2 linked regions of the Homo sapiens genome follow. The protein of the gene in region 2 interacts with the protein of the main gene of each other region in a pairwise test. Each region holds a gene or a part of one and is shown on either strand. Other genes may lie near its edges.

The links. The genes of interacting proteins can lie anywhere in the genome.
Region 1: the proteins of PSG11 (region 2) and ARMS2 interact in a two-hybrid assay, tested with the Homo sapiens proteins (one study listed by IntAct).

What each region holds. Positions count from the first base shown.
Region 1 is NC_000010.11:122,453,299-122,457,452, reverse strand, and holds ARMS2 (age-related maculopathy susceptibility protein 2), read right to left. Parts: upstream 2,801-4,154; 5' UTR 2,726-2,800; coding exon 2,429-2,725; intron 547-2,428; coding exon 520-546; 3' UTR 101-519; downstream 1-100.
Region 2 is NC_000019.10:43,023,670-43,027,719, reverse strand, and holds the start of PSG11 (pregnancy-specific beta-1-glycoprotein 11 isoform 1 precursor), read left to right. Parts: upstream 1-1,250; 5' UTR 1,251-1,347; coding exon 1,348-1,411; intron 1,412-2,663; coding exon 2,664-3,029; intron 3,030-4,050.

The DNA of each region.
Region 1 (4,154 bases), on a different chromosome or scaffold from region 2:
TCTAGAATTTTCTGCAGTGATGGAAATAATCTCTATCTGTGCTGTCCAAGAGGGTAGCCACTAACTACATGTGACTGCCAAGCATTTGAAATGCAGCAAGTGCAAGGATGATCTGAATTTTTATTTAATTTTAGTTAATGCCTATCACCCGGGAGAGAAAGGAGGGCAAGAAAACAAAGGCAGGATGACAGGAGGGAATGCAGTGACAGAGAGGAATCCAGATGTTAGGAGAAGATTGGGCTGCATCTCAAGGGTTGAGAAAGATTTCACCAGCTGCACAGAGCAGAAGATGCATCCAATTGGTGATGACGTGATGAGTCCGCCCAGGTGGGGAAATTCCAGGTTGCACAGTGTGGCCGCAGGTGGGAAGAGAGTCCTGTGGACAGTTGAGGCAGCTGGAGGGAAGGGGACCAGTCTAGGTTGTGAGGGACTCCCTCTGTCCTCCTAAGGATTTTTGGCTTCACATTGATGCTGATGAGAAGCTCCAGTTGGCTTTTAAGGAGATATGTTTTGGCAGAATCACCTTGCTGCAGTGTGGATGATAGACTGAAAAAAAAATAGATTTAGTAATATGCATTTTTAAAGACACATGACGATATTTTAGGTTGAGGAGCACTTTAAATTAAGTTGAAGATGCAGTTAATGTAACTCAATAGGGTAAGAAGTATAGACATTCCATTCCTTTTGTAACAATTAATTTATTTCTGTATGATCTCTTCAATGTAGACCCCCTCCTTCCAAAATAGGACAAAGGTGAGGAAGTTCAAAATACTTTTGAGAACTTTTTTTTTTTTTTTTTGAGATAGAGTCTCACTCTGTTGCCCAGGCTGGAGTGCAGTGGTGCGGTCTTGGCTCACTGCAACCTCCACCTCCCAGGTTCTAGCGATTCTCCTGCCTCAGCCTCCCAAGTAGCTGGGATTACAGGTGCTGCCACCATGCCTGGCTAATTTCTGTATTTTTAGTAGAGATGGGGTTTCACCATGTTGACCAGGCTGGTCTCAAACTCCTGACTGCAAGTGATTTGCCCACCTTGGCCTCCCAAAGTGCTGGTATACAGCCATGAGCCACCATGCCTGGCCTATTTTTGAGAATTTCTGAAGCACTTTAGAATTACAATACCAGCATTTCTTTTTTTCTTTTTTCTTTTTTTTTTTTGTTTTTTGTTTTTTAGATAGGGCATCCTCTCGAGCCAGAGTAGGCTCAGAGACTCCAGCACTAGCATTTCTAATATCAAATCAAAACATTCATGTCTATTAGTTAAATATAGATACTTAAAAGCCAACCCCAGGCCTGCTGCTGCTCAGTTTCCTTTTAAGCCTTTACATTCTATGTATTTGTTAAGATCTATAATTCAGATCTTTTATTAATTTAGGCGAACCCTTCCCCTAAATCAGTTGCATGAGACCAGCAGTCCATCTTTGCATTAATTGGCTCCTTCCAACATATTTGCTTTAGAAAATTAAAAGCATGGCATGTGATCAAATTTTTCACTCTCCATGGTAAAGTATCAGACAGATACAATTCAAACAGAGCCCCAGGCAGCCACCGAAAGGTCTTGAATGACAGCTTGTCAATTTCTGTCACTCGGGAGCAGCTTGAAAAGCTGAGCGCGCTCACATTTAGAACATGCTGCCATTTAGGCAAAATGGTTTAACATTGAATCAAGGACATTATGAGCCAGAATTTTAAATCTGCTTGTAAAAAACAAAAATTAAGAGAGGGAAGGGGTTCAACCTTTGTGTTCTCTCATTTGTCTAATTATATATACTATGGCAAGCACAAAGCGCCACAGTTCCGTAAGCATTAGAAAGCATTTACTAAGCTTATTTGGCAACATGGTCTCTAAGCTGCTTGATGTCTAAATTTTAAACCAACGTGACCTGTAAGGCCCAGATTCTTTCTCTACAAACTTGCATTGTTGTTTTCTTACACATACAGCCAAGGCATTTTTTTTAATCCATAAATGAGCAGGAAAAATGAGCACTGGAAAGCCGTGAGAATATTGAAAGAATGGTACAGCTTTCTAAATGACTCCTCTAACAACCCGGACGAGAAGCAGGCTGAGGTTTCCACCTCCTTCAGTAAACCCTAAAGCCAATTCACCGGCTTGAGGGGCCACTCAGATGGCCTTCTATAAGCTTTGGGTTTCTGCTCACCCCATCACTTTCTCAGACCTACTGCGTCTTCTTGTTTCCTTTTTCTGGCATGTAGCAGGTGCATTGGAAGTATTTACTGATATTCCCAATTCTCCAGCTATTCAACCAGAGGAAGGCTGAATTGCCTAGGCCTCCCTGTGGCCAGTGGTGCTCAAACCTGAGCATGCATCAGAAGCACCTGAAGGCTGGTTAAAATGCAAGCTGCAGGGCACCACTCCAGAATTTCTGATTCAATAGGTCTGGGGTAAGGCCTGATCATCTGCATTTCTTACCAGTGTCAGGTGGTGCTGAGGCTGCTGGAACCTCCTCTGGGTTCCAGCAGGAGAGAAGAAGGCTGGTAAGCAGAGCTCAGTGTGGATTTTAGCAGCTGGGATCATGGAGTGTGATAAAGACAGTTTGCTCCTCTGCTTGTCACTGGCTCCTTCTCCACCAACTCCAGGGTCCAGCACAGACTCTCGCAGAGTGGAAATGAAGGACACAGGAACCACCGAGGAGGACAGACTTGCCATCTCAGGCCCTCCTTTCCCCTCCGCCTCAGTTACCATCGGTCCTGGGTATAGGCGCAGCATGTAGGGTACAGGGACATAATGTGGTGACAAAGGTGCTGTCCCCTTGCCAAGCCAGCTGCCATCTCACTCAGCCAGGAGCATTGTCTTTTCCCGTCACACAAAAATGCCCCCAGGAGTCAGGGCGCCCTGATAACTCCACCCTGAATTGTTGGGTGGTCTCAGGGAGGGTCCACCCCTCAGTCCTGCTCTGCCAGAGGAGGCAACAGAGGTCCCTAGTATCCATTGAAATCATCTGTGAAGCTTTTAAAAAATGCAGAGACCCAGGGATTTGAAAAAAAAAAAAAACCTTGATTGTAGATCATAGTATTGAATCAATGTTGATTTTCCAATTTTGATCATGTTACTGTGGTATGAGAAAATTTTTTTTAAGAAAAACACACTGAAATATTTAGAAATAAAGGACGTGCAACTTAAAGCCTCCAACTTAAATGTTTTAAATGTTTCACATGCTTTAAATGTTTCCAAGAACTTGAATGATGTAGCGAGGGTGGTAAGCATTCGGGAAATCTGAGATAAGGGTCAATGAGAGTTTTGGGGGTTTTGGGATTTTTTGTTGTTTTTTTGTTGTTGTTGTTGTTTTACTATTTTTCAACTTTTCTCTAAACCTAAAATTATTTCAAAATAAAAAACTTTTTTTTTTGAGATGGGGTCTCATTCTGTTGTCCAGGCTGGTGTGCAGTGGTATGACCACAGCTTATTGTGGCCTCAACATCCTCGGGCTAAGGTGATCCTCCTACCTCAGCCACCTGAGTAGCTGGGACTACAGCTACAGACCACGCCCAGCTATTTTTTATGTTTTTTGTAGAGACCAGGTTTTGCCATGTTGCCAGGCTGGTATCGAACTCCGAGCTCAAGCAATCTACCTGCAAAAGTGCTAGGATTACAGGCATAATCCTAGCCCAGGCCCCCCAGCCTTTTTTTTTTTTTCTGAGACAGGGTCTCACTTTGTCACCCAGGCTGGAATCCAGTGGCATGATCATGGCTCACTGCAGCCTCATACTCCTCGGCTCAGGTGATCCTCCCACCTCAGCCTCCCAAGTAGCTGGGACCACAGGTGTGCAGCACCACGCCTGGCTAATTTACTTTTTTTTTTTTTTTTTGGAGATGGGGTCTTACTATGTTGCCCAGGCAGGTCTTGAAGTCCTGGGCTCAAGTGATCCTCCTGCCTCGGCCTCCCAAAGTGTTGGGATTACAGGTGTGAACCACTTCTCCCAGCCAAACACTTTTTTAAAAGGAAAAAAAAAGCCGGGCGCCATGGCTCACGCCTGTCATCCCACCACTTTGGGAAGCCAAGGTGGACAGATCACGAGCTCAGGAGATCGAGACCATCATGGCTAACATGGTGGAATCCTGGCTCTACTAAAAATACAAAAATTAGCTGGGCATGGTGGTGCGTGCCTGTAATCCCAGTTACTCGGGAGGCTGAGGC
Region 2 (4,050 bases):
AACCCCGGAGGGCTCAGAGCGCGTGTGATGGTCACACACAGGCACCATCCGGGATGTGGCCACCTACCCCCAGCTGTCTCTTGGGAAGACAGACGTCTCCCGTGTGCTTGCGGGGAGAAGGGGGGTGTTATTGCTCTTTGCTCCCAGAACACAACTCACCCCCACCCGCCCTCTCAGGTGTGAGCTACGTCCCTCCAGACAGGATCTCTGGCCACTGCCTGTTCCTCCTCTACACACAGCAGCTTGGCCAGGTCAAAACCCTCAGGACAGACCCCTGGGTATCTCAGCACATGGAGGGCTGAGCCCATCATGGCCACGGAGTAAGTCGGGATGAATCTCTCCAGCTCTGAACCCCTGCTCTGTCCCAGGCTCCTCCTCCTGCGTCTCAATAAGTCATGTCCCGCGGGATTCCTGGGTAACTCCCCACTTCCTCCTGCACCACCACGGGGAAGGTGTGGTGACCACAGGACAATCAGCTCGGCAGAGAAGAAAGGACATCAAAGATTGTCAGGAAGAACATGAGAAACCAAGAGCTCCAGCTCAGCTGCCAGACCCCATGGAGTCACAGAGTGACCGAGAACTTTCCCTTTGACTATGGGACTCACAGCCCCCACTGAGCAACCAGCACAGGCCTCTCCTCCCAGGAGGCATGAAAGATTCACCCTGCACACCTCCAGGAAGGACAGTTTCCTCTGGGAAACCCAGGTCCTCAATGTCCATCCTTGGAAGCTGCAGCCAAGCTAGACACGATTGGAGAAAAGAAGGGTCCCTCTCACCAGGCAACACACAGCTCACCCACAGCACAATGGGGTGTCACTCTGACAGGGACCTGGTGCAGCTCCAGCCTCCTGCACTGAAGGGGAGAGCCAGACGGGGATGAAAGAGGGCAAAGGGTGTGAATGTGCACCCCGACCAAGAGCAATGGGGACAGCAGGAGGCTGAGGCCCAGGACTCTGCTTGCCCAACCTGCAGGGTATGTGTCTGACTGTGTGGGTCTGTGTGTGTCTCTTCTGTGTGTGTGTGTATGTGTGTGTCCGCACAAAGTGTGTATTGAGGTTTGGTGAAAGAATCACTGCTGAAAAAGGCAGAGGCCTCCACAATTCCCAGGGACCTGAAACACAGACAAAAGGAAAAACAGAAGGAGGGACAAGGAGGCAGGGCTGAGAGAGGAGGGGACAGAGAGGTGTCCTCGGCCTGACCCTGCCCATGAGCTTGAGAAGTGCTCCTTCCACCGGGAAGAGTCTCAGCGCAGAAGGAGGAAGGACAGCACAGCTGACAGCCGTGCTCTGGAAGCTTCTGGATCCTAGGCTCATCTCCACAGAGGAGAACATGCACGCAGCAGAGATCATGGGGCCCCTCTCAGCCCCTCCCTGCACAGAGCACATCAAATGGAAGGGGCTCCTGCTCACAGGTGAGGAGAGAACTTCCTGGGAGAGGACAGGAGGAGGAAGCAGAGTGACTGGATGGGGTCTCCTGGAGAGGCTCCTGGGGTTCTAAAAAATAAAAAAGCCAGCATTTAGGGAGGCTGAGGTGGGTGGATCACGAGATCAGGAGTTCAAGATCAGTCCAGCCAACAGAGTGAAGCCCTGTCTCTTCTAAAAGTACAAAAAATTAACCAGGTATGGTGGTGTGCTCCTGTAATCCTAGCTACTCAGGAGGCCAAGGCAGGAGAATCACGTGAACCAGGGTGGCGGAAGTTGCAGTGAGCTGAGATAGTGCCACTGCACGCCAGGCTGGGTGACAGTACGAGACTCCATCTCAAAAAAAAAAAAAAAAAAAAAAAGAGAAAAAAAAAAAAAAAAAGGAAAGAAGGCCCTGTTGATGCCTGGATAGGGGAAAATACACCCAAGAGGGACAGGGGTCAAAACAGGAAAGTCACATTGAACCGGAATTGGTAAGAGGTAGGAAACAGGTGTTCTGTTTTCCTGATTAATCATCAGGGGCCACCACATTTTGAAAAATGATAATAATAACTATATCAGATGACACTACAAATAAAAATAAACAGGGCATGAAACACTGTCCTCAATAAAAAACCTCAACAATTGGGGAAAAAAAAAAAAACACCCAGGGCGTGGACGGCCCTGAGAACTCTCACATCTACAGGAGTCTGCAGCCTGTTCCAGGCACTGGGGTGCAACCAAGATCACAAAAGTCCCTGTCCTCACGGAGCTCATGCTGCCATGGGGAGGAAGTCAGACATGCAAAGAGATCTAGAATGTGAGGTCAGGTGTTGACAAGAACCCTGGAGGGAGCAGAGCAGGGAAAGGTCAGAAAGGGAAGACCCAGAGTCCCTGAAGGAGGTGTCAGGAAAGAAGTCTAAGGATGCCCTGATGTGAGCAGGACCTGAGGGCAGTGTGGAGGGGGCCATGCGGACCCCTGGGGAAGAGGATTCCAAACAGAAAAATGCCAAGGTCAGAAGTGTTGAAGGAATGGGGGTCATGCTGCTGACCTTGACCTAGTAGGACAGTAGAACACACACACATACACATACACAAACACACATGCCCCTTTTCTGTGTGTGTATGTTTGTATGTGTGTGTGTGTGTGTGTGTGTGTCTTCAAGGCTGAGGATTGAAGAGACCTTCTCAGGACTCAGGGCCCCATCTTTTCACCCCAATACATAGGTCTCAATATTGACTGATGCTCTCTCCACCTCCTAGCATTACTTTTAAACTTCTGGAACTTGCCTACCACTGCCCAAGTCATGATTGAAGCCCAGCCACCCAAAGTGTCCGAGGGGAAGGATGTTCTTCTACTTGTCCACAATTTGCCCCAGAATCTTACTGGCTACATCTGGTACAAAGGGCAAATCAGGGACCTCTACCATTACATTACATCATATGTAGTAGACGGTCAAATAATTATATATGGACCGGCATACAGTGGACGAGAAACAGTATATTCCAATGCATCCCTGCTGATCCAGAATGTCACCCGGGAGGACGCAGGATCCTACACCTTACACATCATAAAGCGAGGTGATGGGACTAGAGGAGTAACTGGATATTTCACCTTCACCTTATACCGTAAGTGATTCCACATGATCCCTGGGTGTTGGGGGACAGGGGTCACTTCTACATCACACACACAGGATTGTCAGGCCTGGACATTGCCTGTGTCCCTCTCTGCATTATGTCCCATGCTGGGGTTTGGGCATTTAGTGCAGGACACACACAGAGGAGACAAATTTCAACAGATCAGAATTCCTTTCCCGCATCCAGACCCTGCAGACACTCGCTGCAGAGGAAGGACAGTCTGATGGGGGGACTCAGCAGGAGGAGATCAGTCTCAGCCAAGCACCTCATGCCCTCTTCATAAATTTGACCCTGAGAAAGACCCTGGAGAACTGAGTAGAATTTGACCTGAGGGGCCCCTGAGATACTCTCAGAGAAGCTCAGCCCTAGAAGCCTCAAACCCAGAACTCTGTACCTAAATCCTTGTTCCAGATAAAGCTGAGGAGCCTGTTCCAGGGCTGGGTTGTGGCTTCTTGGGCAGGGCTTACTGGGACCAAGAATTTACCAGCTGTCTGAGGACTGTGTCTCCTGGAGCTGTTCACCAGCCAGGGCTCAGCCCTCAGAGCCTCATCTGGGCAAGGACAGAGCTTTCTTCACCTGACACTCAGAGTGGAGAGGACAGAAAGACAAGCTTTGTAGGTCATCAGCCAACTGCCTTAGGAGGCTTAGGACAGTCCATAGAAAGTCTAATGTCCTCAGAAGCAGAAACAGAAGAGAGAAGATGTACCTGGTAGCAGCTTGTCCACAGGGATCTGACGTAAAGGTGCTTTCTCATGGAAGCAAATTAATAATAAATGCTGCTTGTGTGAACACCTCCACTGTGCCAAGCATTAGGTCAGGTGACTGTGAATAATTTAACATTTATTCACAGATAGCATGAAAAGCCACAGTCCATTTGCCATTTAACTTATCTGATTGAGAGAAAACTGAGGCACAGGAAGGCACAGTCACTGAATCAGAGTCACACAAACGCAAAGGGGAGATCAGGGTCACATGAGGTCTGTCTGCAGCCACAGGCCCATCCTCTCCTCCA